Homo sapiens: one gene and its partners. The protein of the gene in region 3 interacts with the protein of the main gene of each other region in a pairwise test. Each region holds a gene or a part of one and is shown on either strand. Other genes may lie near its edges.

Evidence for each region.
Region 1: the proteins of DOK6 (region 3) and SLC30A6 interact in binary tests that used the Homo sapiens proteins (3 or more experiments, as listed by UniProt).
Region 2: the proteins of DOK6 (region 3) and ABHD11 interact in binary tests that used the Homo sapiens proteins (3 or more experiments, as listed by UniProt).
Region 4: the proteins of DOK6 (region 3) and LASP1 interact in binary tests that used the Homo sapiens proteins (3 or more experiments, as listed by UniProt).

What each region holds. Positions count from the first base shown.
Region 1 is NC_000002.12:32,189,688-32,197,208, forward strand, and holds part of SLC30A6 (zinc transporter 6), read left to right. Parts: intron 1-2,648; coding exon 2,649-2,729; intron 2,730-3,230; coding exon 3,231-3,266; intron 3,267-4,201; coding exon 4,202-4,296; intron 4,297-7,521. UniProt on the Homo sapiens protein: Has probably no intrinsic transporter activity but together with SLC30A5 forms a functional zinc ion:proton antiporter heterodimer, mediating zinc entry into the lumen of organelles along the secretory pathway.
Region 2 is NC_000007.14:73,735,556-73,743,499, forward strand, and holds ABHD11 (sn-1-specific diacylglycerol lipase ABHD11), read right to left. Parts: upstream 3,248-7,944; 5' UTR 3,243-3,247; coding exon of another isoform or gene 3,216-3,242; coding exon 3,091-3,215; intron 2,909-3,090; coding exon 2,773-2,908; intron 2,588-2,772; coding exon of another isoform or gene 2,181-2,587; coding exon 2,007-2,180; intron 1,837-2,006; coding exon 1,666-1,836; exon of another isoform or gene 1,556-1,665; coding exon 1,374-1,555; intron 1,137-1,373; coding exon 1,004-1,136; 3' UTR 539-1,003; downstream 1-538. UniProt on the Homo sapiens protein: Catalyzes the hydrolysis of diacylglycerol in vitro and may function as a key regulator in lipid metabolism, namely by regulating the intracellular levels of diacylglycerol. 1,2-diacyl-sn-glycerols are the preferred substrate over 1,3-diacyl-sn-glycerols.
Region 3 is NC_000018.10:69,697,611-69,705,131, reverse strand, and holds part of DOK6 (docking protein 6), read right to left. Parts: intron 6,729-7,521; coding exon 6,539-6,728; intron 1-6,538. UniProt on the Homo sapiens protein: DOK proteins are enzymatically inert adaptor or scaffolding proteins. They provide a docking platform for the assembly of multimolecular signaling complexes. DOK6 promotes Ret-mediated neurite growth. May have a role in brain development and/or maintenance.
Region 4 is NC_000017.11:38,914,931-38,922,451, reverse strand, and holds the end of LASP1 (LIM and SH3 domain protein 1), read right to left. Parts: intron 7,474-7,521; exon of another isoform or gene 7,410-7,473; coding exon 7,306-7,409; intron 3,848-7,305; coding exon 3,674-3,847; 3' UTR 682-3,673; downstream 1-681. UniProt on the Homo sapiens protein: Plays an important role in the regulation of dynamic actin-based, cytoskeletal activities.

The DNA of each region.
Region 1 (7,521 bases), on a different chromosome or scaffold from region 3:
AGCCTTCAACACCTGGGCTCAAGTGGCTCTCCTGCCTCAGCCTCCTGAGTTGCTAGGACTACAGGCACATCCCACCATGCCTGGCTAATTTTTAAAATATTTTTGGAGTCAGGGGTCTCACCATATTGCCCAGGCTGGTTTGAACTGGTTTCAAGCGATCCTCCCACACCCCGAGTAGCTGAAATTACAGGTGTGGAGCCACCGTGCCCAGCTGTTATTGTCTTTTTTCATAAAGGCCATTCTATGGTATGCAGTGGTATTTCATTGTGGTTTTAAGTTATTTTCCTTATGACTAATTGAGCACCTTTGCCTATGTTGATTAACCATTCAGATCACCTCTTTTTTAAAATGCTTGTAAAAATCTTTTAACCATTTCCTGTTTTTCTGTATTAATCTGTAACAGTTCTTTATATATAAGTATCTTCTCCTTCTTAGTTGCCCTTCTTTCTCTTAATGGTATCTTCTGATGAATAAAAGTTTTAAATTTTAGGCCGGGCGCGGTGGCTCACGCATGTAATCCTAGCACTTTGGGAGGGTGAGGTGGGCAGATCATTTGAGGTCAGGAGTTGGAAACCAGCCTGACCAACATGGTGAAACCCCATCTCTACTAAAAATACTAAAATTAGCCACACATGGTGGTGGGTGCCTGTAATCCCAGCTACTTGGGAGGCTGAGGCAGGAGAATCACTTGAGCCCAGGAAGCAGAGGTTGCAGTGAGCCAATATCGTGTCATTGCTCTCCAGCCTGGGCGACAGAGTGAGACTCCGTCTCAAAAAAAAAAAAAAAAGTTTTAAATTAAATTTATTTTTTTGGGTTGGTCCTTTTGTGTACTTGTTAAGAAATCTTGGCATACCCCCAGGTCAGAAAGACACTTTGTTCTGTTATCACCTAGAAGCCTTACTGTTTGATTTTTCATATTTAATCCTACAATCCAGTTGGAATAGATTTTTTTGGTATGGTGTGAAGCAGGAGTAAAGGCATATTCTGGACTGCAGTGGCGCAATTCGGCTCACTTCAACCTCCATCTCCCAGGTTCAAGCAATTCTCGTGCCTCAGCCTCCCAGGCAGCTGGGATTACAGGCCCGCACCACCACGCCCAGCTAATTTTTTGTATTTTTAGTAGAGACTGGGTTTCGCCATGTTAGCCAGGCTGGTCTTGAACTGGCCTCAAGTGATGTGCCTGCCTCGGCCTCACAAAGTGCTGGGATTGCATGTGTGAGTCACCGCGCCTGGCTCTTTACTGCTTTTATGTGCCACATTTTTCACAAATCAGTGGACTATATATGTGTAGGTCTGTTTCTAGATTCTCTTTTCTGTACAATTTGGTGTATTTGTACTTGGATTAGTACTGCACTATGTCAATTATTGCAGCTTTGAAATACCTATTGATATCTGGTAGTATAAATCTTCCAGCTTCGTTCTTCTTCAAGGTTATCTTTGCCTTCCTTCACATTTTGCAGTTCCATATGCATTTTAATATCAGCTTCTCACCTTCCACAAATAACATTGGTGCATTTGCATACTGTTTTTTCCTGTTCTTTTTTATTTTTTCAGTAGCTGGAAAACAACACTTAATTTGTATTCTATCATAACCTACTTTTTTCACTCACCTTTTTCCATGTCAATAAATACTTTTTTTGTTTAACAATATATAATGTTCTATTGTTGATTCCAGCATTTTTCCTTTACAAATAACAATGTGATGTACAGTCTTAATTTTTTTGTCTTTTCTGTGCCTCCGTGATTATTTTCTTGAAAAATTTTAAGCATTTATACTTACCATAAATATTGAATACCATTAGACCATGTGTTGCAGGAAAAACTAAAACAACAGTTCCTGGCCTCTGGCTTATAGTCTAGGGATTATAAAATATATTCATAATTCACTGTAATTATGTATAGAAATGAGAGGCAGTATAATAAGTGGTTAAAATCTGAATTCTAGTGTCAGAGTGTTTGAGTTTGAAAACCTTCTACTTGCTATCTATATGACTCTAAACAGTTACTTTTCTTCTTCGTGTCCTAAACTTCTTATCTGTTTGGGAAAAAAAAATGAGCCAAGTGTGGTGGCACATGCCTGTAGTCCCATCTACTCGGGAGGCTGAGCAGCTGGGAGGATTACTTGAGCCTGGGAGTTCAGGGTCCAGCCTGGGCAACATAGTGAGACCCCCATCTCTTGAAAAAAAGAAAAAAGTGGATAAAGTAATTCTAATAAGGGGTTGGGAGGTTTAGATGAGGTAATATGTTAAGCACTCTGGTGTCTAACGCACAGTGGGTCAATTAAGTGTTATTATTATGATTGTGATTATTTCTAGAAAATAAGGACTATAATTGGGTCCTGGTAATTGTCTTTTTTTTTTTTTTAATCATTTTAAAGTTTTTCTGGAAAGAGAAAGCCTCTGACATGGGCTGAAGGTGCTCTCTCTTCTGAGTCCTAGGAATTGTACAAATAGGTACTCCTTGGAATCTGTGATTTTCATTGTTTATTATTATTCTAGAAACCCTAATCTGCTCTAACAGTGTTGGGCTCATAGTAGACAGCACATATGTATATTAAGTGAGCAAATAAATGAATGTAAATGTGTTCTAGAGAGACTGGTTTGTGAATTGAAAGAATTGTGATGATCTAATTAATGTTTTGGTTTCAGGTTTGAAAGATTAGAAGTCCTGGCTGTATTTGCCTCCACAGTCTTGGCACAGTTGGGAGCTCTCTTTATATTAAAAGAAAGGTACATTTGTATAGGATATTATTCTAAATCCCCCCATGACACCTTTGGGAACATGAAAGAAACCCGTCAGACACATTTGCTTTCAAGGGTATGAAAACTTAGATGAGCAGGGCTGGAGTTTTGATAGTACACTTTCTTTATGTTTCAGACTTTTTCTTCTGTTTCATTTTTTTTACTTCCTTCCTTAATGCTACTAAATTGAATCAGAAGTGGTTGTGAATGAAACAGAGATTCAGTCAGGCATGTTTGATGCTTATTACAAACCCATTGAAATAGGCTTGGCAGAGAAAGATAGACATTACATATTAAGGATAATTTGTGAAAAAAGAAAACAACTAAAAAGGATAATTTATGAGTCTCCTTGCCTCATCACTGCTAATAGTTAATAGTTATAATATTAAAAGATTTTGTGAACTTTAAGGTGGGTGAATGATATATTTAATAAAGCTTTTTAACTTTATAATTTATAGGACTTATTTAATATATTTTTATTTCTTATAGTGCAGAACGCTTTTTGGAACAGCCCGAGATACACACGTGAGATTTTATTTTCAATATATAATTTACTATTGATTCTTAATTATTAATTGATGTATTATTAAACAGTTGGCCAATGTCAGATTTCAGACTGTGGCAACATAACGTTTTTGCTGGTATTTCACAAACAAAATTCCCTAATACTAAGACTCCGTTTCTTTACTCTTAACAGTTCCCAAGTTCTAAATATTTTTATACTACACAGGAAGGCCTTTCTATCTTGGCTTCAGGCTTCTCATTATTTCCAGGCCTAGGAAACACTAACCCAGCTTCCCCTAGTCTTCTGTAATTTCAAATTTGACCTTCAAAATCTTTGCATAGCACCTGTAGAAAAGAGAATTGGACGAGGCTCAGGGATTCAGTGTAATCCCAGCACTTTGGGAGGCTAAGGCAGGAGGATCGCTTGAGTTCAGGAGTTCAAGACCAACCTGGACAACAGAGTGAGACCCTGTCTCCAAAAAAAAGAAACGTATATATGTTTCATATATATTGCAACTATGTGATTTTCATATATATATGAAAAGAGAATTGTATGTATCATATATATGAAAAAACAATTGTATTTCTCAACCACAGAGCTGCCAACTATATGGACCTTATCTATTCTGATCAGTTTAATTCCACAAAGTCTGACTTGTCCAGTATATCGTAAAACAAATACCATTGATATTTATACAGATTTATAACAGCGTTTACCTGTAGCAAGATACTGTTAATGCTAAAAGTCCTTACTTATCCTTTGTAAGATGGAGCAACAGTAGATGGGACATGGGTGATGGGGCTAGTAACTAAGTTCAGATTCTGTATCTGGAAACACCAAATCATTAAAGCAGACCACTTTACCTTCCCACCTCTTAGTCCCTCTACGTATTGAAATTACATACTGATAATACCAAGAACAAATTAAAGGTGAATGTTATCGTTGTTCTTTTTAGGGGAAGATTATTAGTTGGTACTTTTGTGGCTCTTTGTTTCAACCTGTTCACGATGCTTTCTATTCGGAATAAACCTTTTGCTTATGTCTCAGAAGGTATGTTTTTTATTTACTATTAATTTAAAAATCCAACTAATCTCTCATAAAAACAAGCCTTTTGTTTGTTTCGTTCACTCAGATCAATGAAGAAGTATATTCTGAAGACAAGAGAGAACTAGCCCAAATGTTCTCAAGTCTTTTTTAAGTGGAAAATTATAAAACAAAATCTCATTAGTTCAAGCTTTAAAATAACAAATTATTTTAAAACAGGCAGGAGTGACCTGTAAATTAAATCATGTGGTGATGAAAAATTACATTTACCAAATAATGTGAGATTCTAAATGTGTAATCTATCTAAGAAAAGTCTATTGTAAGCATTTTAGAAGTATCAGTATACTTAGAATTCTTAGTTGATATGCTAATTGAAAATAATTGTATTCTGTTAATAAAGTAAGTTCCCAGGAACTTCTCTTTGGCAATGGTGGATGGGCATATATGTTTGCAAGTAGCCAAACTTTATTTCTTTGGAAATATTCTTTTATTTTGAAGTATTTACAACTTCAGACTGATTTTTCACTTTTGCAGTCTAAATTATTTTCTTTTTTCAATAATTTCAGTGTTTTGGAATCCCACTAACCCACAAAAGAGTTAGCCACTAAGAGATGGAGAAGTGAGGTGAAAATAGAAGTGGGATGTGTGCACAGACCCACACTTTGAAGTATAGAGAAGCACAGATAGGTGTGGATCTTTTTAGATCTCACTCTAGGATAGTCAAGAGAAGAAAGTTTTCTGAAATGCCCATTCAAGTTTAAACAACTTCATGAATGTTATGAAGATAAATTGTGTTTGTATGAGTTAAAGAAGTACTGCATGAATTAGAAAATTAAATAATGATAATTAAGATCACTAGAATTTCTTGAAAAAAATTCATAATTTATAAAATACTATAACACTTACTCTAGAAATTTTTAAGATGGTGCAAAGATTTAGAAACACTGTTTCCCTGTAAAGATCAGGGAGATACAAGAAGGAAATAAGACTACTGATAATCTTATGACCCACAGATAATATGTTAACATTTCTATGTTATTCCTTCCACTTTTTTGTATGCACACGTACATATAATTTTATGTGCTTACTTAGAATTGTATATATTACAGTTTTATGCCTGGCTTTTTTTTTTTTTTTTTTGAAACGGAGTCTCACTCTCTTGCCCAGGCTGGAGTGCAGTGGCGCAATCTTGGCTCACTGCAACCTCTGCCTCCTTGGTTCAAGGGGTTACAGGAATGTGCCACCATGCCTGGCTGATTTTTGTATTTTTAGCAGAGACGGGGTTTCCCCATGTTGGCCAGGCTGGTCTCACTCCTGACCTCAGGTGATCTGTCCACCTTGGCCTCCCAAAGTGCCGGGATTACAGGTGTGAGCCACTGCGTCCGGCCATGTCTGGCTTTTTGATTAGCATTATGTCTTCAGTATTGCTTCTCATTAAATACTCTTTGAATGTAAATGATTTTTTAATGTTTGCATAATATTGTTATGAATATTTTAAAATATTTTATACATTTCTAACTTTTCCTTTTATAAATAACTCTATAATCAGCCTCTTTAGATCAACTTCGTCTGCATTTTTTATTCTTTCTGTAGGATAAATTCCCCGAGAAGGAATTATTTACTGGATTAAAAATACAGTATTTTTCAAAGGCTTTGTTGTATATTGCCAAATTTATTTCCAGAAAAGTTATCTAGTTTATATTTTTATTATATTATATTATATTTATTTATTTATTTATTTTTTAATAGAGACAAAGTCTACCTGTGTTACCCAGGCTGGTCTCAAACTCCTGGGCTCAAGCAGTCCTCTCACATCAGCCTCCCAAAGTGCTGGGACGACAGGCGTGAGCCACTGCTCCCAGCCTACTTTATATTTTCATTAGCTGGAAATGGAGGTTCCCAGAAACATCAAGATTTGTGACATTAGCTGGGCTTGGTAGCATGTGCCTCTAGTCCCAGCTACTCAGGAGGCTGAGGTGGTTGTATTGCTTGAGTTCAGGAGTTTGAGTTCAGCCTGGGAAACATAGCAAGACTCTGGCTTTAAAAAAAAATGAAGGCTGGGTCTGGTGGCTCACACCTGTAATCCCAGCAGTTTGGGAGACCAAGTCAGGCGGATCACAAGGTCAGCAGTTTGAGACCGGCCTGGCCAACATGGCAAAACCCTGTCTCTACTAAAAAATTATAAAAATTAGCCGGGCATGGTGGCAGGCGCCTGTGATCCCAGCTACTTGGGAGGCTGAGGCAGGAGAATCCCTTGAACCCGGTAGGCGGAGGTTGCAGTGAGCCGAGATCACGTCATTGCACTCCTGCCTGGGTGACAAAAGTGAAACTCCATCTCAAAACAAAAAAAAAAGAAAAAAGATTTGTGAAATTACTTGAAATTTGAGTGGGAAATAATATTAAGTACTTTCTATATGCCAAGCACTGCTAAATACTTTACATAGAATAACCTATTTAATTCTAGCCAGGTAGGTACCCAGGTTCTCACCTGGCTTTTTTGAGAGTTGAGGGAATTAATTTGTATGTAGTTTGAATATCCCTTATCTGAAATGCTTGGGGCCAGAAGTGTTTCACATTTTAGATTGTCTTAGATTTCGGAGTGTTTGCATTATATGTATGGGTTGAGCATCCCAAACCTGAAAATTTAAAATTCGAAACGCTCCTATGAGCATTTCCTTTGAGTATCATGTTGGTGCTCAAAGTTGTGGATTTTTGGTTTTCAGATTTGGGATCCTCAGCCTGTACCTATGGCCCGTTCTCAGCACACTAGTTAGGAAGCTCTGCTTAAAAGTATAAAGAACTGCTGGGCATGGTGGCTCACACCTGTAATCCCAGCACTTTGGGAGGCCGAGGCAGGTGGATCACCTGAGGTCAGGAGTTCAAGACCAGCCTGACCAACATGGTGAAACCCCGTCTCTACTAAAAATAAAAAATTAGCCAGGTGTGGTGGCACGTGCCTGTAATCCCAGCCACATGGGAGGCTGAGGCAGGAGAATTGCTTGAACGCGGGAGACAGAGGTTGCAGTGAGCCGAGATGGCACCACTGCACTCCAGCCTGGGCAGAAAGAGCAAAACTCCATCTCAAAAGAAAAAGTGTAAAGAACCTTTAAAACCTTAAATTAATAGTAACAATGACATAAATTCCTTCAGGTCAACTGTATATTGTATAATAGTTGAAACTGCTTTTGAATTAGTGGCATAAGGGCATAAAAGAGGAAACATTTATAGATT
Region 2 (7,944 bases), on a different chromosome or scaffold from region 3:
CCTTGTCCTGCTAATGGAGGAGCGGGGGGCTAGTCAGGCATTCTGGAAGGAAAGCCACACAACCAGCTGCCCTTCACTGAGGCGGGGGCTGTGGCCATACTCGTCCACCCCCAGGACCTCACAACCAGACCCACAGGGTCCGAGCCTCAGCTACTCTCTCTGCCACCCACAGGAAGCAGGCGGTGGAGGCGGAGCTGCAGAGATGCAAAGCCAGGCTACACGCCATGGAGGCCCAGCTGCTGGAGGTCCTGGAGGAGAAACTGAGGCTGAGGCGGGAGCTGGAGGCCTGGGAGGTAGGGGAATGCCATCAGGGCCTGGGAGGTGTGGGGAAAGAGGGCACAGGCTCAGCCTTGAACCTGCTCTCCTGTCCACAGGAGGACGTGCAGCAGCTGGTGTGGCAGCAGGTCCAGAATCAGCTGCAGAGAGAGGCCAAGGGTACTCGGGGAGCCCACGTGGACCCTGGAGCTGCCAGCACCCCCCGATCCAGATTCTCCCTGGGTCGGGGACGTTGGTGGTGACACAGACCTCAGCCCAGGACTTTGGGAGTAGTGTCTTTATTCATTAAAGCCTGAGGTCTGACCACCCCTGTAAAACCTCGTGCCCACACAGTGCCTGTCTGAGTCCTTCTGTGCCCAAATGTGGAGCAGGCTGCAGAGACTTGAAGCCTGGGGTTTTGTGCCTCCTTTTTGTTTTGTTTTTTTTGAGACAGAGTCTTGCTCTGTTGCCTAGGCTGGAGTGTAGTGGTGTGATCTCGGCTCATTGCAACCTCTGCCTCCAGGGTTCAAGTGATTCTCCTGCCTCAGCCTCCAGAGTAGCTGGGATTACAGGTGTGCACCACCACGCCAGGCTAATTTTTGTATTTTTAGTAGAGACAGGGTTTCACCATGTTGGCCAGGCTGGTCTCCAACTCCTGGCCTCAAGTCATCCTCCCGCCTTAGCCTCCCAAAGTGCTGGAATTACAGGCATGAGCCACCACGCCCGGCCATCTTCTTGCCAGCAACTCTTAGACCAGGAAGCCTCGGATGGCAGCTATGAAGTCCTGTGGGCGGTCAGCGTGGATCCAGTGGCCAGCGTTCGGCACCGTCTGCATCTGGGCCCGAGGGAAGAGCCGCATAATCTCAGGGTGGTGGCTGGGACTGTGCATCGCAGCGACGGCCATCAAAAACGGGTGAAAGTGGGATGAGGAGGAGTGAAAGAGACACGTGGAAGCAGAACGGGGAGAAATGGAGAGAGCTGTGTGAGCCCATATGCCCGGTGGTATTTCTGGCCTCTCAGCCACCCCCCTTCCACACCCAAGGCCTCCCCTGGTAGGGTCCCCAGGCTGGGGCCTGGGCGAGTAAAGCATGCCCCTCCTACTACCCAGGCTAGCTTACTGCACGAACTGGGAGTTTCCACCAAGGAGAAAGAGTGTTGGCCCGAGGTAGGACTCCTGCCTCTGTGGGAAAGCCAAGATCTTGTCTAGGTGCTGGGTCAGGGCATCCAAGTTCACCCTCCACACGAAGCGCCCGTCTACCTCTACCAGGTTAGTGAGCAGGTGCTGCCGCACGGCCATGTCCTGTGGGGGTGCAGCAGTTGGGGGAGGTTCCTTGTGCGGTCTGGGGGTGCCACTCTTCCCTTGACAGGTCCTGGTCTACAATACCATCCGGGGCACCTTGGGTGTATCACCTGGATGACAGAACTGAGCTGTTCATCCGCCAGTTTTCGGGCACGGGAGCGGGGCAGCTCATCTGCGATGTTGATGGCCCTCATGGCTGCCACATAGGTTGCAAAGTGGGAGACACCTGTGCTTTCCACTGGGCTGATATCTACAGCAATGAGACGTTCCACCAGCTCTGGCTGTGGGAGAGAACCGAACTGGGACCAGTCTTAGGCAGACATAGGGAGTCTCAGGCATGGCTCCTGGAGCCTGAACTTGGTCATCCAACGATCATGTGAGTCCCAGGTTGCCTGCAGGGCCCTCAGGGTATATACTGAATGGGAGGAGGCCCCAGACATGGGCGGCTCACCCTCTGTAGTGCCAGCAGCATGGCTGTCTTTCCTCCCATGCTGTGGCCAACGACGACGCAGGGCACCAGGCCCAGCTGGGGCAGAAGGTCCTGCAGGTCCTGGCTCATGATCTCGTAGCTCATGTCTGGGCTGTGGGGGCTGTCACCGTGGTTACGAGCATCCACCGTCAGCACCTGGGGAGTGGGGTGAGACGGGGCTGCGTTGATATCCCCATTCTGGGGGTAGACAGCCAAAGGCTTGTAGGGACAGCAGGTCAAAGGTGTGGAGAGCCTGGGGATACACCCTGTGGAGGGGAAGGGCCCAGTTTCCAGACCTAGGAGGCCCAGATGAAGAACCTGGGGCCACTCTGCCAGAGAAGAGCAGGCCCCAGGGTTGTGACCACGTCTCTGAAGGGCTGGCCTGGCTGGGTGGCAATCTCGGAGAATGCCAGGAAGGAGACTCCAGGAATTTCCAACAGTAGGAGCACAGAAGAATGGGCTGCCATAAGAGGTGGTGAGCTCCCGGTCATCCCTAGTGAACAAGCAGGCCCCTTCATGGAAAGGGTGCAGGCGCCTAGGCATGGGCCAGCCCCGATGGAGATCTACAACATGAATTAATGAAGATGGCAACGTGAGGGAATAAATGGGGTTGCCGTTCAGGGTCCATACTCAGAGTGAGGGATCTGGAAGTGAGCGTGAGAAGCGGGACCCCCCCTGCCCCGCCTCCTCTCAGGCCCCGCCCACTCCCGCCCAGCCCCAAAGGAGCCCCGCCCACTCGAAAGCTCACCCTACGGCCTGTCTGCTGGGCCAAGATCTTGGCGATGGAGTTGAAGTTAGTTTTGCTGCCGAAGAGCCCGTGCAAAAAGACGACGGCCGGGAGGGCTGCCTCCCCGTCCAGAAGCCTGTAGGAAAGCGGAAGCGGCCTGGCAGGGGAAGGATCGAGGTCAGAGTCTGAGCCGGCGGAGACGGGGAAAGGGGTAGGGGGAAAGAGCTTTGGGGGAGAGGCCTGGGAGGTGACAGGCCCAAAGGGAGGAGATGGGGCCGTCGGGGCCCGGCAGGAAAAGGAGGACAGAGGATGGCCTCCCGCCCGGTGCCCTTGACTGACCTCGGCTCGGCGCCCCCTCGGCCGCCGCTGCTGCTGCTGGGTGCGACAGGCACCCTCGCGAAGCTAGGGCCGTGGGGGCCGAGTCCCTCACGCGGGAGCCTCCAGGCTCGGGTCCAGCGGAGCATGCTTGCAAGCTGTTGGCCGGCTCGCATCTCACAAGGTACGTCCTCCCCGCGCTCCTTCTCCCGCCCTAGCTCGCAGCCCCGCCCATTTCCGTCTTCAGCCGCCCCGCCCAGTTCCGACTTGAGCCCCGCCCTCTCCCCGCCCCCATCGCGGGATTCTCCGCCCTTGGTCCCGTTTCCTTACGTATCCCCGAGAACAGTCCGGCCCCGCCTCCATCCCCGCCCCTTACGCCATTACGTAATCCCCGCAGGCTTTGCGCGGGTCGCCCTGAGCGCCGCACCTGGCCTCGCCCTAGGCTGGGCAACCCGCGGTGCTTGCCCCTCCCCTCGCGAAGCGCCGCGGTGCGTAGAATCTGGGAATTCGGTCTGCGCCGCTCTGTGCGTGCTCGGTTCTGGTTGCAGCTTAGGGCTCGGTTCCCGCCCCGCACCTGCCATCGCTCACTGACCTGGGTGGCTGCCATCGTTTCTGTGCCGCCGGCGGGGGCGAGCGGCGCCAGGGTGGCTCTGGGCGGCGGAGTGCCAGTGTGGTGGCGCCGTGCTCCACTGCCGGGGGCCCGGGCAGGTTGGGCGGAGCACGGACACCCACCCATCCTGGAGTCGTCGATCTAGAAGGAGCTCGGGGGCACTCTAGAGCTCTTCCCCAAGCCCCTTCGTCCCTTTTACGTTTGGGGAAGGCTCCCCCAGTCTGATCCCACCTGCTTTTCTGCCCATACTCCCCATTCTCATACTCCCCTATCAGGCACCCTGCCTTTCAAGGTCTTCTCCACACCCCACCTCCTGCTGGGGTGCTGTCTGTCTTCCAGATAGCCAGTTGCCCGAGTCCTATACTTTTTTTTGGTGGGGGTCTTACCCTCGCCCAGGCCGGAGTGCAGTGACGCGACCGTAGCTCACTGCAGCCTCGACCTCCTGGGCTCAAGCGATCCTCCCGCCTTTGCCTCCCGAGAATCTGGGACTACAGGCGCAGACTAATTTTAACATTTTTTTTTTTTTTTTTTTTTTTACTGAATCATGGTTACAATTTTTTTTTTTAGGCCGGGTGCGGTGGCTCACGCCTGTAATCCCGGCACTTTGGGAGGCTGAGGTGGGCAGATCACCTGAGGCCAGGAGTTGGAGACCACCCTGGCCAATATGGTGGAACCCCGTCTTTACTAAAAATACAAAAATTAGCTGGGCGTGGTGGCGGGTGCCTGTAATCCCAGCTACTCGGGAGGCTAAGGCAGGAGAGTCGCTTGAACTCAGGAGGCGGAGGTTGCAATGGGCGGAAATCATGCCACTGCACACCAGCCTACCGGACGGAGACAGACTCCGTTTAAAAAAAAAAAAAATTGCCGTGGGTGGTGGCACGGCCCTGTAATCCCAGCTACTGGGGAGGCTGAGGCAGGAGAATCGTGTGAACTTGGGAGATGGAGGTTGCAGTGAGCCGAGATCTTGCCACTGCATTCCAGCCTCAGTGACAGAGCGAGACTCCATCTCAAAAAAAAAATTTTTTTTTTAAAAAATAGAAGCGGGGGCTTGCTATGTTGCCCAGGCTGGTCTCGAACTCCTGGGCTCAAAGTGCTGAGATTACAGGCATGAGCCACCACACCTGGCCCAACAAAATTTTTTTTAGAGAAGGGGTCTTGCTACCTTGCCCAAGCTGGTCTCCAGCTCCTGGCCTCAAGCGACCTTCCTGTCTCAGGTATATGGCTTTTATTTTATTTTTTCTGAGACAGGGTTTCACTGCGTCACCCAGGCTGGACTGCAGTGGCACAATCACGGCTCACTGCAACCTCTTCCCCCTGGGCCCAGGCAATCTTCCTGCCTCACCCTCCCGAGTAGCTGGGACCACAGATGTGCACCACCATGTCTGGCTAATTTTTTTCTGTTTTGTAGAGATAGAGTCTTACTATGTTCTAGGCATAGCAAGGGGACAGTTTCAGGCTGGTCTGGAACTCCCAGACTCAACTGATCCTCCTGCCTCAGCCCCCTGAGTAGCTGGAATTACAGGTGTGCTCCACCATGCCTGGCCTCAGCTATAGGCCTTTTAAGGCATTGTATAACTGCTGCCTCCTCCTCAAGCCTTCGCAGACTTTCTGAGTTAAAACTAATCTCTTTCATGGAATGTTCTGGAAGCATTTCTCAGAGGCTACTGTGTAGTATTATAGAGGCAGCCCTCCCTGTGTGTCCACAGCGGGAGCTATGTCTTGTTCATCTGGTGCAAAGTGGTAATAGTCATCAAGAGCTTCAGGGCACTGGTAAATGCTTATGTGGAAGTCCTGCGGGTGGCTGGGTTAGTGGCCCTCCCGGATATGACACCTGGGCCAGCTAGTCTTACACTGACCCCTCCCCCACCTCCTTAGGGCGGTCCAGGACCTACAGGATGAGTCCTAACTTTTTTTTTAAAAAAATAATTAATTAATTAATTATTACTATTATATTTTGAGACGGAGTTTTGCTCTTGTTGCCCAGGCTGGAGTGCAATGGTGCGATCTTGGCTCACCGCAACCTCTACCTACTGGGTTCAAGCGACTCTCCTGCCTCAGCCTCCCGAGTAGCTGGGATTACAGGCATGCGCCACTACGCCGGCTAATTTTGTATTTTTAGTAGAGACGGGGTTTCTCCACGTTGGTCAGGCTGGTTCAAACTCCCGACCTCAGGTGATCTGCCCGCCTCGGCCTCCCAAAATGCTGGGATTACAGGTGTGAGCCACTGCGCCTGGCCATTAATTTTTTTTTTTTTTTGAGACAGGGTCTGGCTCTGTCATGGAGGCTGGAACCTGGCTCACTGCAACCTCTGCCTCCCGGGTTCAAGCAGTTCTCATGCCTCAGTCTCCCGAGTAGCTGGGACTACAGGCGCGCATCACCACACCTGGCTGATTTTTTTCTGTTTTTGGCAGAGACAGGATTTCACCATGCTGGCCAAGCTGAGGATGTGTCCTAACTCTGTAAAGCTCCATCTCCTGCTTAATGGGACCCTGAGGTGTTTGGTTCCAATCTGAGGAGGGCTGAGGTCACCGAGGACTCTAAGCACACCAGGTGGTGTGATCATGTTTCCCGCATAGTAATTAGGGGAGTGATGAGGACATCTGAGCCCTGTATGGGGGCTGGTCCCAGGCCTGGGAGGGGTCCTTGGAGAGTGTTTTTCTAGAGTTGGTGGGTGTTTTTCTAGAGTTGGTGGGTGTTTTTCTAGAGTTGGTGGGTGAAGGGCGTGGGGGTTGAAGATTCAGAACAATAGTATTTCAAAGGTGCTTTTTTTTGTTTGTTTGTTTTGAGAGAGTCTCTCTGTTGCCTATGCTGGAGTATAGTGGGACAATCTCAGCTCACTGCAACCTCTACCTCCCGGGTTCAAGCGATTCTCTTTTGCAGACTCCCAAGTAGCTGGGATTACATGTATGCGCCACCATGCCCGGCTAATTTTTGTATTTTTAGTAGAGACTGAGTTTCACCGTGTTGGGCAGGCTGATCTCAAACTCCTGACCTCAGGTGATCCTCCTGCCTCGACCTCCCAAAGTGCTGGGATTACAGGCATGAGCCACTGTGCCTGGCCTCAAAGGTGCTTTCAAATTGATCCCTGCCATACACCCCACCCTCCACCAGGTAATCTCAGCCTGGCCCAAGATCCCCACATCTAGGGGCAGAAGCAGCCTTGAGATATTTACTCAGAGTCCTGGGCCCCAGCCCTGATCAGGTGGCTGATGAAGGCAAGCAGAAAAACCAGTTGGTTTGATGTTTCCACTTGAACATTCCAGAGAAAGTGGTGGGGGCAGGGGAGGGGTCGTTGCTACCTGGGAATGGATCTGGGGGTGGTGTCATCCTGGGGGCTGCCCAGCCCTCTCAGCTTGTTAGGAACAGGCCAGGAAGCGTGCTGTTGGTTGGCGAAGGCCTCCTTCTAGGGGAGGCCAGAGGGGAGGACTTCCGGAGCCCCTGACATGTGGAGGTGAAGGTGGGAGGTGAAATGGACTATCGCTCTTTGGAGGTCGAGTGTACACTGCCCCATCCGTGTTCCCAGGCTTCCTGTGAAGTGGGAGGGTGCCGTCCTTATTCTGCTGATGAGGAAAGAGAGGCTTGGACGGCGAAGTAACCCAGCTCCAGGTCACTCAGCCAGTGCACAGCCCGGATTGTTTCCTTCACTGACTCCTAACGCAGTGCTCCGTGTATTTCATCACCACCCTTCAGGCCGTGGGGACCAAGGGCCGAAGGGGTGCGGCCTGAGGCGGCCGGGACACTGCGCCTAGGTGGCGCGGTGGCATTGAATGGGTTAAGGAGGGGAGGTGGCGGGTGTCCCTTAACTGCACCTGGCCCAGTATCGGTCACGTGGCCAGGGTTTCACCTGCCCCGCTGAGCAGGGACAATCAGGCTGCTTGTTTTGTGGCCGGTCGCCATGGTGACAGCAGCTTGCCAGGGGCGGTCATGGGGCAAATTCCTGCTGGCCAGCCGGGTGGGGCAGGAGTGTCAGCTGTGCTGGCACCAGTCGGGGCTTCCCGAAAGACCCCTGGAGCTTTCCCGTGGGGCTGTCCCTGGGGGGCCCCTATGTGACTCCGCTCGAAACCTCCTCCCATCTCAACCCCCACATCAGCCCAGCTTCTCTCCTCCCAGATTTTGAACCTGAGTTGATGTATTAAGCAGCCGGGATTTTCATATACGTTATTGTGTTTAATCCTCACACAGCAACCTTTCCCATGTGGGAATGGTAATCCCTGCAGGTCTGCTGCCGGCTGCGCCTCCCCTACTACTCACCCAACACTTTGAGAACA
Region 3 (7,521 bases):
TATGGACAAGGAGGATAATGATAAAGGAAAATCCTCCTGGAGGGCCGAGGGCAGAACCAAGTGGAATAGAGGATTGGCACGTTCTTCCCAAAGAGCAGAATGAGGGCCCAGCCACATATCCTTGTTAATTCTGGATAAAGACCCTGAAGATATCTGGCAAGCAGCAATTCAGAATTACCAGGACCAGTGACTGTTGCCTGCTTGCCTCCCAAACTTTCCCTTGAATGGGAGTGTTTGCAGGGGCAGGCATCCCACCTCTCTTAAGCCACTGTTCCTTGGGCCAGGGTGGGTAGAGGGGGGAAAAAAAGCATCTTTTTCTGGATCATTCTTTTGGAACTATAAGAAGTCATATCGGCCTAGCATGGTGGCTCACGCCTGTAATCCCAGCACTTTGGGAGGCCGAGGCAAGTGGATCACGAAGTCAGGAGATGGAGACCATCTTGGCTAACACGGTGAAACCCCGTCTCTAGTAAAAATACAAAAAAATTAGCTGGGCATGGTGGCGGGCGCCTGTAGTCCCAGCTACTCAGGAGTCTGAGGCAGGAGAATGGAGTGAACCCAGGAGGCGGAGCTTGCAGTGAGCCGAGATTGCGCCACTGCACTCCAGCCTGGGCGACAGAGCAAGGCTCCGTCTCCAAAAAAAAAAAAAAAAAAAAGTCATATCTGGACCTGATGTACACACTGCTACAAATCGCCTGCAGACTCTGGACTTTGAGCTATAATCAGTGGCTTGCTGGATTGCTTTTTGGATTGTTTCCCTTAAGGAACAATTGAGTGTGTAGGAAGAAGAGAGAAAAGGGATCTTCGCTCATCAGAAGATATGACTGTGGCAGAGACAATATACTTTCCAAATATTCCACATACTCCCTACTTGTCCCCTCGCAGATGTGGGGTGGGGGGGCTGTGGAGGCCACCTTCTGGGTGGTGGGCTATTAATAGAAATAACATGCATTACCACTGTACTAAAGTATTTAAATGTTTTGTATTAGCGCAGGCTGCCATAAGAAAAACATGACACAGAGTGGGTGACTTAAACAACGGAAATTAATTTTCTCACTCTGGAGGCTGGAGTCTGAGATCAGGGTGCCAGCATGGTTGGGTTCTGGTGAGGGCTTTCTTCCTGGTTTGGAAATGGTCACCTTCTTGAGGTCTTTCCTCCGCATGGCAGAGAAGAGGGACTGAGAGGTTTCTTTCTCCTTCTTATAAAGCCACCGATCCTATCAATCAGATTAGGACCCCACCCTTATTACTTCATTTAACTTTAATTCCATCTATAAAGGACCTATCATCTCTGGCTCTTGTCATAAAGATATAAGAAGTTTGGGGTTTAGGGTTTCAACATATGAATTTTGGGGAGAAACAATTGAGTCCATAGTATGCTTGTTGGAGAATGTTCCCACCTTCTTCCCCTGCTATGCATGGCAATGAGGTAGGTTAGCATGAAGATGTCTGAGTCACAAGATTGCAGCATCCTAGGTTTCTGAATCCAGGTGCCCTGGTGATCTGTCCAAGCCTGCATCAGGCATAGCTTGAGTGGGAAATAAATCTTTGTTGTATTGAGCTATTGAGAATGGGGGTTGACATCATTAATGTTTTTAAAATGATACAACTTAACCTATGTTCCTAATACACAACCCTCCTGGGATGTATTTTATTACAATTCCTATATTATATTGAAATCATTAGTTGATCTATCTTACCAAGTACACTATGTGCTCATTAAGGGAAGGGACTATGTGTTACCTATTTTTGTTTCTTTAGTTCTTACCATAGTGTTCGATAAATGAAATAAAGTAGCCCAGAGAATAAATGAGGTTTCTGGTGCCACAAAAAGATTTAAATCATAATATCTAATTGGGTTTTAATTACAAAGTATAGAGTAGCAAAGGCCTCCATGAAAAAAATTTGCATCAGGGATGTTTTCAATGTTTTAAAATCATAGGTCTATATAAACCCTTGCTTTAATTCCAAAGAGATAATGCCAAGACAAAGTGTTTAGGAACCTAGTGCCTTTTCCTTCTGTGTATCTAATCTGGTAAATCTCTTGCTATGATAATACCAGGTCTGCTTTTTTTTTTTCCCCCTCGGAGAGAGCATTAATTAAATGACTTAGGAAACTGTTTTTATTGAGAAATGGAGACTCTGATCTTAGTTATTGCTCAATTAAGTTTAAAGTTCAATACATTTTTATTGAACCCACACATACTTTAACGTGAATTGCTTTTTACTAATTGGTCTGTAGTAATCACAATGACAGTTTTGGTCGCCTTTTAGGCTTCTTTTATTCTCATTCAGAAAGTTCCTAAACTTCATTCATAGTCATTAAATCAAGAATGATTTCTGGAATCAAGAAGATAAAGTCAAGAGAGCTGTGAAGTTCTGGTTTGATCTCCTCCCATGATTTGTGAAACGTCACCACATTCACTCATAGGTTTCTGTATCCCAGGATATACCACCCCCAGCTGGCTTTATTCAAACAATGAAGCCATTCATTGATTAATTCCTTCATTCAACAGAAGCACATGTTTTTACATTTTAGTATTTCTGAAATTGGGGTATATTTTGTTATGACATCGTCTATGGAACAGCAGCCTCCAAATGATGGCTGCCAAGTGGTGGTAGTGATGTGGCTGCTGTTGCCTGTGTGTACAGGCTCAGGATTTCCTCACTTCAATTGAAGCTCTGTGCAATGTTGGCACTTCATGTCTTGTGTTTGACTATATTTTAGTTAATTGCAACTCTTCAATGTTTCAGTCAAGAAATGTTTTAGGACCATTTGAAAGAGAAACACGAGACCTTGTTGTCTAAAAACCTACTGTGTACACCTTCTGGTAGATAAACTTTGCACCAACAAGCATAAAAAACTTGCAGGACAGATATCAGTAGTTCAGAAGAAAATCTTAGAGTCCCAGCAGTACACTCTTTTATGAAGATATGTGTACCACTAACACTCTTGATGGCAAATCAAATGATATTTAAAAAAAAAAAAAAAAAAAACCAACCCAGAAGGGCATTGATAACTCTGGGTTAGTACAGAAATGTTGGAGTCCATATGTGAGAAATTCCTTAACTAACTTAGACCTTATAGTGTATATAACATAATTCATATTTATTATGTATTAATTATATTTTTATGCTTTTGTATCATATTTAAGAACTTTCTGTTTTATCTTTCCTCTTAACCACTTGGTTATGCATTAGAGAAAAGATTCTTTCTCTTTGCATCCCTGACCAACGAAGGTTTAGGAATAAATTAAGCCTACCTATGACATCACAGAATCCTTAATTGTATGACATATAACATTTGCTACCACTAACCACCTTTTCATAATAACTATATTGCAATATTTAAGTATTATTTTGCATTTCTAATTGTTAAAAATTAGTAACTGGGTTTTTCCCAGGTTTCTAAATGGAAGCAATATTATCAAAGTTAGTGAGACACATATTTTAAGCACCAATTTTCTACTAGTAAGCATCATGCTGAATATGGGTGCTTAGTTTTTGAAAAATAATTCATACAAAAGATCAGGGGTTCGCCTGAATTTTGGCCATGCAGGCATTTTCACTCATCTTGATTTTTGCTTACAATATTTATGAGGTAACATGAAGTAAAAATGTCAAGTCAGCAGTTAAATAAAGGAGTTTTGTCTTTCACAGGATAAAATTGTACATAATCATGAATCTTATCACTTCCTCTGAAGGTCTGGTATTTTTTTGTGATTATCTTGAGAAAATATGCTTGCATGGCAAATTGGTTGTTTCTACCTTTAAAATGCAAAGTTATGATCCTTATGGTAAAAGAGCAATTGCTCCGAGCTGATGTGAGACTATGAATACATCTCCTGGGCGCCATGCTGCGCTGAGGATGATTACCATGGAGAGTTTCCTGGTCCTTGTTCTCCTTCTGCCCCACACTAGGTGAGTGCTCCTTGAGACTTATGGCATATAATTATAATTACAAGGGTGACTGAAGGATGCTTCTCCAGAATAAACGATGTATATCCATTCCTACTGTTCATGTCTACATGTCAGTTTTACAGCAGAATTTAACAATGCATTTGAAAAAGTGTGTCAATGAAAAAAGTATTTTGACATATCCAATTGTATTATTTTCATATGTATTATTTGTACTAATACTACTATTAGTGCATATAGTAGTATAAATAAATAGCTAAAATTTATACCAAGTGATATGCCTTGGGCAATGAGCTAATAAAACCTAGAAAGTGTTGGCCTTTGGCTTTGGTTTGCTAGCATGACTGGCCATGCCTTACCTGCCAATCTGCCCTCTAAATTGTCCCCAGTCTCATCACCAGTGACCCCATCAGTCCAGACCCAGGGAACACAATGTCCCACTTTTATTTCTCTAGATCAAGTATGGACAAGACCTTCCCCCACTGGCTCATTTTAACAACAGTGAAGTCATCTGGAATTTACAAAACAGATGCACAAAATTATGGACAATTTCTCAGTCACTAAAGAGCAAATGACACCCAAAATTCAGAGAAGGAGAAACACACAAATGAACTGTGTCCAAAGGACAGATCTCTAATCTCAAAGACAAGGAAATAAACAGAGGGAAAAAAATAGATACCAAATTCCTCTATGAAATAGAAAGATCTTAAAAAACTAATGTGGACAGGTATAAATGGAGTGAAAATTCTGAATAACCATTCTTCATGAAAGAAAATGACTTGTTATTTAAAATTTTGAGTGGAAGTCTATTGAAACGTTGTAACAGACAAAATAGTTAAATTGTTTTCCATAGAAAGAGGAAGATAGGTATATCTAGAAGGATCCAAGGGAAGGGATCCTGGAGGTAGTGCTGGTAAATGATGCAAAAACGAAAACAAAACCCCAACCCCGACAAAACCTTAACAACAACATTCAATTCATATATATATATATATATGTATATATATGTAAAACTAACTGATATGGTTTGACTCTGTCCCCACCCAAATCTCATCTTGAATTGTAGCTCCCAAAATTCCCACGTGTTGTTGGAGTGACCCAGTGGGAGATAACTGAATCATGGGGGCAGTTCCTCCCATGCTGTTCTGATGGTAGTTAATAAGTCTCACGAGATCTGATGTTTTGATAAGGGGAAACCCCTTTCACTTGGCTTCATTCTCTTCTCTCGTCTGCTGCCATGTGAGATGTGTCTTTCTCCTTCTGCCATGACTGTGAGGCCTCCTTAGCCACGTGGGACTGTGAGTCCATTAAACCTCTTCCTTTGGTGAATTGCCCAGTCTTGGGTATGTCTTTATCAGCGTGTGAAAATGGATTAATATACTACCTTTTTAAAGCCAGTAAAAAAATAAGGTGCATCATAGATTTTAGGTCAGTGAATCTCTAAAACATGTCAACTCATTTTCATAGTCATAATTTTTAAAATAGTAAACATATCTTAAAAATATTCATTTTCTTATTAGAATTTGTATTTCCCAATGGCTATCGGAATGTGATTACACTATTGCACTCTCAATATCTAGGTAGACAGAAATAGTTGAACAAGCTCATAACTACTAAGTAAACACAGGATCTAATGCTTTTCAGAGAAATCAGTGTGGTAGAGACTTTAATATTACTGTAGTGCAAAAGGGCCCCAGACTGGTAAAATTACTCCAGCTCAGGTTTTTTGTTTGTTTTTTCCCTCCTTAAAATTTTAAGAGACATGGGACCTACCCTAGCTGGCTAGATAGATATTATTAGAATGTGACATTGAGTAAATATTTAGCAGTTTTTAAGAAGAAAGTTATAAACTTAAAAATATTATATCAAATGCAATAAAACTTCACTATAATTGCCTTATAAGGCCATGAATTCATTTTAAGAATGTGATAAATCATGTACCCTGGGTGAAGATGGAAGCATTAAACATCTCCTCATATAAAATCCCCAAACCTAAGTCTTATCTTGGATGTGTGACAATACTACAATGGGGTCATAGCATAAAGACAATGATTTGGTTGGTTGTAGTTTATGTCTAAATCCGTGTTTATTAATAATGATTGTGAATCAAGGATTCATTTCAGACCCTTATGGATTCCAACCATATGCTGTGATCAAGAAAGCAGTATATTTGCCTAAAAGCAATATTTAAATTTATTTAAAACTTTAAAAAAAGATTGTTTGCTTATTAAAAAACACTCACAAAAACAATGCAAGCAAGGACATGCTGCCTTTAATTTTATGGAGGTCCTTTTGCATACAGGCACACCGAAAATATAGTATTGTAATAATCTTGCAAAACATATTACATTATTAAAATAATTACAAAACCAGTTTGAGTTTGATGGTAGTGTAAGAAACTGAAATTATTTTGAATGGGGTAATTAGCCTGCCAAAAAACTAACAGAATTGTATTCATGTTATTAAGAATCTGAAGAAATTATGTATTTGGTAACTTTTACCCTGAATGAAAACAGTGCTCACTGGGGGCAATGATGGACAGCACTCTCTTTCAGGACTCTGTTATACAGACTCTGTTATACAGACAACTCCTGCACTTGGCTGCTGCACTAGATCTTACCTTCCTGACTCAAACGTGAACCACGTTGAGTCCCGACCGTATCTCCTCAGTGAGCTGAGAGGCCACATCACCAGTTTGACCTTGGCATTGTGGATATCCCAGAGATAGATATTTTCATGAGTGATCTGCATTGTGCATTCACCATAAATATCCAGGTTTGGTGTAGGCATAAGATACACGTTGAATCTCTCTGTGAAGAGACGAAGAATGGAGAAGGTTAAGTGAAAAGAGGTGTGAGTGTCTATGGCCATACGATATTAATTTGTTTATCTACAGACTGCAGGAAACATGACCACATCCTCCCTAGGTGATATGGATAAACATTGTAGAACATGACATATTTCAAAATTTGTATGAGAAAAGGAGTTCATTAAAGTGTTCTGAATCATTAATTCATTCATTCACTCAACGACTTTTCATTGCATGTATTGTCTATGGTGAGGATTAAGTAGTTAAATTGTACAATGGAAAAATAAGGGCAAAAGTTAAGGGAGTCTCTGCCCAAATTGTGCTTATGGTCTGTTCCTTCACACAATCTAAGTGGATATCACAGATACGATTCCAGCGAGGGATGTCTTATTTGCTCTCCTTAGGCAAGATCTTATTTGATTTTTACCTTTGTTGATGTGAAGTATTTAATGCACCCTCAGACTGACTCACTAACTACTTAAGCACTGGAAAAATCATTTAGTTTGTATCTCAAAACAAATTGTAGTCATGGTCAAATTTAGCATATGATAATTGCAGATATTCATTACAGCCTTCCGCAGAACTTAAGACATTGCTTTGGTAAGCAAAATAAAAATACTTAACTTTTTTCATTCCTGGATATCCTATGGCTGAAAATATTATTAGGCAATGATTCCAAACCTTACTTTGTAACTGTCTGTCTGTGTTTCTTAAAGGCTATTGCAAAGTTATGCTGCCTTTGATTCCCATTTAGATGCATTAAATAGATTTTTTTTTTTGAAAAATAAGATTAG
Region 4 (7,521 bases), on a different chromosome or scaffold from region 3:
GATTACATTCAGAAGGCACTGTGAATAGTGCTTTGGGTTGCCAGGCCACCTTACAGACAGCTTTATCCAGGTCCCGTCCCACTGTGGAATGCCCTGTCATCTCGTTCCTCAAATGCGTGGAGCTCCTGCTCTCTGCCTGGCAGCGGCAGAGTGCTAGAACTGCTCCCCAGCCAAGCTCATTCATTAATTCAACAGCTCCGCACCGCTCCTGGGCAGGTACCCGGGATTTAGAGATGAATTAGACTCATCACCTGCCCCAAGGGCTCTGGCTAGTGGGGAGACAGATATGTCACTGAGGAAGTGACACAGTAATACGAGACGGAGCTCAGGGAAGCTTCCGGGAGCATCACCAAGTTGGGCAGAGAGGAATGAGCGGGTGGAAAGCCAGAAGTAGGTTGGTGGGGAGTTCTCAGCAAGGAGGAAGTAGGGGCCAAGGGCCTGACAGACAGCAGCAAACTCCCCCTTGGCATCCAGACAAGTCATTCTCTCCCCGAGGGGCAGCAGAGGTCCCAGGAGGGCCACAGGCCAGTGCCCCCAAGCAGACAGGACACACACACACACACACACACAGTGGCACCTTACAGCTAGACACACACACACACAGCAGCACCTTACAGCTAGAGACACACACCCACACACAGACACACACAACAGCAGCTCAGAGCCAGAGAGGAAACCAAGTCCGCAGGTAAAAATTATACTTTTATTTGAGTCACCAGGAGAAAGATTCACTTGTGGTTCAAGTCAAATGTTCAGAATCATAACAGGCCAGAAAGGTTTGATCCCGAGCACAAGCCCACGAGGGAGGGGACCAAAACAGACCAAAATGAGACAACAACCCCATATAAAAAGATGAACTGGCGGCTTCACACACTCACACACATACACATACACACGGATGAAATGTTTGGACAGAGGCAAATTTCACGTGGTCATTTCTGTTTCTTTTTAAATACAGGTTTGTAGGGTGGTATTTTGTTTTTTCCAGCTATAAAAAAAGGCCCAAAAGTGCATGTGTGAGGGGGGAAAGGCAGAAATTAAGCAATAAAGTCATTTTCCCTGGAGGGACATGAGAGGGAGAAAACAGGAGGCAGTGCTGGGAGAACGCACTTTCCTCACCACTGGGCTTCTTGTTATTCTTAGTATTGGTCCACAAAAGTTATATTCACATTCTAGCTTTGATGCCTCTTTCCTGGGATTAAATGAGCTGAAAGACCTCTGTGAACTGTAGAGAAGACCAGGGGCTCAGCCCAGCCCAGCCCAGCCCCTCAGGGCTCTGTGCTCTTCTAGGGATGGATGGTTTTGGTAAAGAACAGACGCCCAGCAGCCCCCGGTCACTCAGCACCAGTGTGACAGTCCCTCCTCTCTCTGGGGGTGTGTAAGAAAACGGCCCCTATTTTTAGGACAGGAAGAGTAGAGGGAGGGCCTGCAGCAAGATTCCATGACTGGCTTGCCTTATCTGGGAAGGAGAATTAAGCTGAGTGAAAACAGGCTGCTTCTTGCTGCTCCTCCCTTCCACTCACCACTCTCCCAAACTCAGGTCCTCTAAGGGGATGTGTCCCTGACCTTTGGTCCCCAAATCCACATTGTGCTTTGAGATCAAGAGGAAACAGAATGCACCAGCGCCACCCAAGACTCCCAAGAGATTCTCTGCCTCCCCGAGCCCCCAAATCGCCCAATATAAGATATTCCACTTGCCTCCACCTAGGCTGGGGCCAGAAAGGAAAAGGGATGGGTCAGGCAGGGCCTCCCCACCCACAGTCTTTTCCTCAACCTCTCATTCGGGGCAAACATCCCCAAATCAATTAACAAGCAGTTGACAAAAACACCCATGATGACTGATTGTTGAACAGGCCAATACCTTCAGGTCCTGCCCCTCACCTGTGGGTACAAGTGTGCCAAGGGACAAGAGGCCAATGGCAGGGCCTGGTTGGGCTCAGGATGAAAATGGGATGGGGACTCCCAGAGGGTGGCAAGAAAACCAGAGATGAATCAAGTGAGGCCAGGGTTGTCACAGCCACCCATGAGCAGAGAGCAGGAACTGGATATAGCACCGTCTTTCCCTCCCCATCCCCGAGGCTGTGCTTCCAGTTTTGCAGCCCTGGGACCCTCTTTCTTGCTTCAAGGGAGCTTTATGTAAGTGAGGGGGAGGTCTAGGGGAAGAGCCCCCGAGGGAGACACCCACAGGGTGACACTTCTGCCACCCTATTCTGTAGCCCCAGACAGAGATGGGGAAACATATGCCTGGAGTGACAGAGCCTTCCTCCACCGCTTAGCCCCAGCAGGCTGCAGACCCTATGGCAGCCCCAACTCCACACCAACCTCTTACCTTCCACCCTGCACACTGCAAAGGGCAGATTGGTGGGCTTCCTCCACTCAGAGATGGGGGGAAGGAGGAATTTCATTCCAAAGAAAACCTAAGGAACTTCTCTGCCCCAGGAGCCCTCCCCTCTCACTGTGGGTTCTGAGGAAACTCTCAGGGGAAGACAGCTCTTCATACCCTCACATAACCCCACCCACACACAGGCCCAGAGACACCTACAGACACACCCCCGCCCCATCTCTCACACTCACACTCACACACTTGCGTGTCAGACACCTGCAGACATACATGCTCCTGCCTCCGCACACCAGGTCTTGGAGATTTAGTGGTCCCTGCTGACTTTGTGCAGCTCCAAGTCCACTTGGCATTGGGCTGGGGAGGGGAGGTCATGGAAGGCTCTGAGACATCTTCCCATGAGGAGCAGGGAGGAGCGGCCACCTAACCCAGATCCTGGGGGCTGAGGGAGGCTGAAGACCAAAAGGTCCTGAGGCACCCTTGCCCTACACTTCGGGACCATGGCTTCCAGCCTAGGAGGCAGGCAAGGGTCCCTGGAGACTGGGGGTGGGCGTGGGGAAAGGGGCTGCGGAAGAGAACTCCTTGTTCCCCTCCTTCCGGTAGCTGTCCCTAAAATTAAGAAAGGCAAGAACCTGACCCAAGCTGTGCTTCCTCGGGAGCTCTTTGCCCGCTGCAGGTCTGCGTGGGCAGGAGGGCAAAATCACAGTGTGCGAAGGAACGCGCGGGGAGGGGATGAATTCGCCCCACAGCAGGAACCCCATTCTCCTGTTGTTGCCCCTGAGGAGGGAGGTAGGGAGAGAGACCCCAGGTGGGCAGAGCCCCCTCTTTGAGAAAGAGAGGTAGAGCCCATCCCACTGGTCCCTACACAGCGGCAGAGTCCCCATCGCCATCCCAGGAACCAAGAAGTGGATCCCACTCTGGGGAATGTAGGGAGCCCCTGACCTGGGGTCCTGGCAGTCAGGCTCACCCCAGCCCTGGAATGTGTGGGTATGTGAGGAGCTGGGCAGGAGGATGTGAGGGGAGAGAACAGAGGGGCAGGTGAGGCCCACAGGCCAACAGGTCTCCCATTCCAGCCCTGCCTCCCCCAGAGAGGCCCATGCCCGTTCCATCCAGAGAGAAAACCAAGAAGTCGATCAAGGGGGAAGCCTGCCAGAGGAGGGAGCCCGCAGAAGTGGCAGAAGAAGGCTTCAGTTGGCAAAAGAAGCTGGAAGAGGGGTAGGAATCACAAGCTGTCGCAGGTTTTAAAAAACAGAGACACTGAAGAATGGACGGGTCACGCCCAGGACGGATGCGATGCCGTGGAATGTGCTGAAGACAGATGGGGGCGCTGCGGGTTCAGATGGCCTCCACGTAGTTGGCCGGCAGCATCCCCGTGTCGCCGGTGCGCTCCACCGTCCCGTACATCCAGCCGTCGTCGATCTGCTGCACGTTGACGATGGTGTCCCCGTCCTGGAAGGAGACCTCGTCCTCGTCGGCGGCGCTGTAGTCATACACCGCGCGGTACCGCTTCTGTGGGGGAAGTGTGGTCAGCCTAGGGCCCTGCATGCCGGCTCACCTGGGTCTGAGCATTTTTTTCTAACTCTCCACGACCCTGGAGCAGAGCCTGGGGGAGCAGTGAACTCAGAAATGGAGCACCAGGCTCTGCTGCAAAGATTCTTAACCTCTGTGTCTTGCTTTCTGAGAGCAATCGATCTTTTACAACCTTTGGCAGCTACTAAGGGCCAGAGGCAGAGCAGGGACCGGGTCACATCAGCTCTGCCCCACCTCCCTGAACAGGACTGCAGTAAGGTCCACCAGCCATGATGACAGAGTAATGTCTAAAAATACGACATGCAGGCCAGGTGCAGTGGCTCACGCCTGTAATCCCAGCACTGTGGGAGGCCAAGGCAGGAGAACTGCTTGAGCCCAGAAGTTTGAAATCAGCCTGGGAAACACAGTAAGACCCCCCAACTCCCTCTTTTTTTTTTTTTTTTTGAGATGGAGTCTTGCTTTGTCACCCAAGCTGGAGTGCAATGGTGTGATCTTGGCTCACTGCAACATCCGCCTCCCGGGTTCAAGCGATTCTCCTGCCTCAGCCTCCCAAGTAGCTGGGACTATAAGCGTGTACCACCATGCCCGGCTAATTTTTGTACTTTTTTGTAGAGACAGGGTTTCATCATGTTGGCTACGATGGTCTCAAACTCCTGGTCTCAAGTGATCCGCTCGCCTCGGCCTCCCAAAGTACTAGCGTGAGCCCATCTCAACAAAAAATAAAAAATTAGTTAGGCTTAGTGGTACATGCCTGTAGTCTCAGCTACTCAGGAGGCTGAGGTGGGAGGATGGCTTCAACCCAGGAGGTTAAGGCTGCAGTGAGCTAGCTGTGATTGCACCACTGCTGCACTCCAGCCTGGGCAGCAGAGCAAGACCCTGTCTCAAAAAAGAAAAAAAAAACAGAAAAAACATGCCCTGTATGCTATTATTTGTATGATTATAAGCACCAGTAGTTTCTTTTAGAAGCCATGATGAGTCCTGTCCAAGTTCAGGACAAAGATCTTTCCTTGGGAGAAAAATCTTCAGAGGACAGAAGACGAGTCTATCAGGTTCCACCTTCCAAGCCTCAGCCAAAATCTGCCGCTTAAGCCCTAGATCTAGGTAATGTTCAGTAAGGCACACAAAAACCTACAGCGCCACCTACTACCAGGATGGAGTTTAAAAAAAGAAAGAGGAAAAAAAAAAGAAAAATAAATCCTATAGCTATAGACAACATTCTACCTCCCCTGACCTTCACTGCCCTTGACTGGTCTCTGAGGCTCCACAGGACAGTTTGAAACCAACAGGTCTATGGGATAAGAAGTCACACCTCCCATGAAGTAACCTCAGTCTCTCTCATCACCAATTCTGCCTCTATCTTGGGCTGAGCCACTCCCATCCATGCCTATATCCTGCAACAGCCTCCTGACGGTCTCCCTGCTTCTACCCTCAAACCACTGCCTCTTCTCAACACAGCTGCCAGGGTGGTCTTCCAAAAACCTATGTCGCTCTGCACAGATCACAGGTCACAGAGGCCTTCCTGGGGCCCACAAGTCCCTGCATAATCGGACCTCCCACCCTCTCCCACTCTAGTCAATTCGGGCTTCCTGCTGCTCCCTGAACTTTCCTAGAATATTCCTGCCTCAGAGCCTTTGCACTTCCTGTCCTCGTTGCACGGCTCACTCCTTCCTTTATTGAGGACTTTGCTCAAATGTCACGTCTTTTTTTTCTTTTTTTTTTTCTAGCTGGAGTTTTGCTCTTGCTGCCCAGGCTGGAGTGCAAATGGCGTGATCTCGGCTCACTGCAACCTCCACCTCCCAGGTTCAAGCAATTCTCCTGCCTCAGCCTCCCGAGTAGCTGGGATTATGAACATGCACCACCATGCCGAGCTAATTTTATATTTTTAGTAGAGACAGGGTTTCACCATGTTGGCCAGGCTGGTTTCGAACTCCTGACCTCAGGTGATCTGCCCACTTTGGCCTCCCAAAGTGCTGGGATTACAGGTGTGAGCCATCGCACCCGGCCAAATGTCTTTTTTCTTTGGAGATATTGCTCTGTCACCCAGGCTGGAGTGCAATAGTGCAATCTTGGCTCACTGCAACCTCTGCCTCTCGGGTTCAAGCAATTCTACTGCCTCAGCCTCCCGAGTAGCTGGGATTACAGGTTACAGGCATACACCACCACACCTGGCTAATTTTTGTATTTTTGGTAGACAGGGGGTTTCACCATGTTGGCCAGGCTGATCTCGAACTCCTGACCTCAAGTGACCTGCCCGCCTTGGCCTCCCAAAGTGCTGGGATTACAGGCGTGAGCCACCACCCCCGGCCAAATGTCTTAATCCAGCTGCTTTCTATCCATCCCTCACCCTGCTGTCTTTCTCTTCACAGCGTGTCACCGCTGACCTTATGTTATACACCTATTTTCTTATTGTTTTCTTGTTTGTCCCCCTGACTGGAATGTAAGCCCCCAGAGGGCAGAGAGGTGGCTTTATATTCAGAGATGGACCCTACACATCCAGGACAGACCCATTGAGGAGGGAGGGACTGGCTGGGCTGCCTGGAACCTTATACTTCAGACTAACTCTTGCGCCCACAGTGCCCTGGGCAGTCCTAACATCCCTTTGTTTGTGTGCCCAGAGCATCAGACTCCAGCCAGCCATTATCTCAGGCGATTTTATCTCTCTAAGTATCTGTTCTGCTCCTACGTGAGCTACTTTGAATTCCCAGGCACCCAGCCTGGAGGCGCTGAGCCTGCCAGGAGCTTGGTAAGGGTGGCTCAGCGGCACCCATGGGTGGAGTGAGTGGCAGGACTTACAGAGCCGGGACTTCAGCTCTGAGGGCTCAGGAAGCCTGATCTCACCCCATTCCTGCTGGGCTTATTCACTTGCTCTAGGCCTGGCTCAGAGTAGGTGAACCAGACGGACGCTGCCAGGGTCCCCAGCCCAGCAGGGGACACAGAGAAGGTGACCAACACGAAGAGCTCTTTTTAGTTGGAAAAAGTGCTCTGAAGGCAGCCAGCGGAGTCGAGTGATGCAAAGCATCAGGGTGATGCGCTTTACACGACATGGCTGGGGAGGCCCCTCAGAGGCAGGGGCAGCCTGAGAGCTGAAGGATGTGGGGGCCATCCTCATGAAGCGAGGAGAGCAGCGCCCAGTGCTGGAAGGCCCCATGCAGAAAGTTGCCTTGTGTGTTCCCAGGTAGCTGGGGTAAGGAAACCCCACCCAAAGCAGGGTGAGCAACCTGCCCATGGTACACCAGGGCTGGAACGCAGGGCCCCAGTCCCAGCCAGCCTCTGCCCACTACGCCAACCAATTTCCTCTCTGCTCACAAGGCTGAGATCCTTATCATCACACACAACAGAGGGTGGGTGCAAAGGTCAGGAGAATCCATGAGCTGTGTCCAAGCCTTCCCGAAGGACCCCCTGCCTCTGGCCTCTCCCCTCCGGCCAGGGTTACTCACCCCGCCACCACCTGGGGCGCTGCGCTGTATGGAGACTGGGGCTGCAGGCTCCTTGTAGCCACCATAGGACTGGGCCACCGGCTGCTGCTGGGGCTGCTGGTAAACTGGAAGATGGGAGGAGACAGGGCTTGGAAACTGTCCTGCCAAACCCAGCCCCTCCCAGAGCTCCCGAGAAGTCCATACCATGCACTTCCACCCCGCCCCCAACCTGGCTCA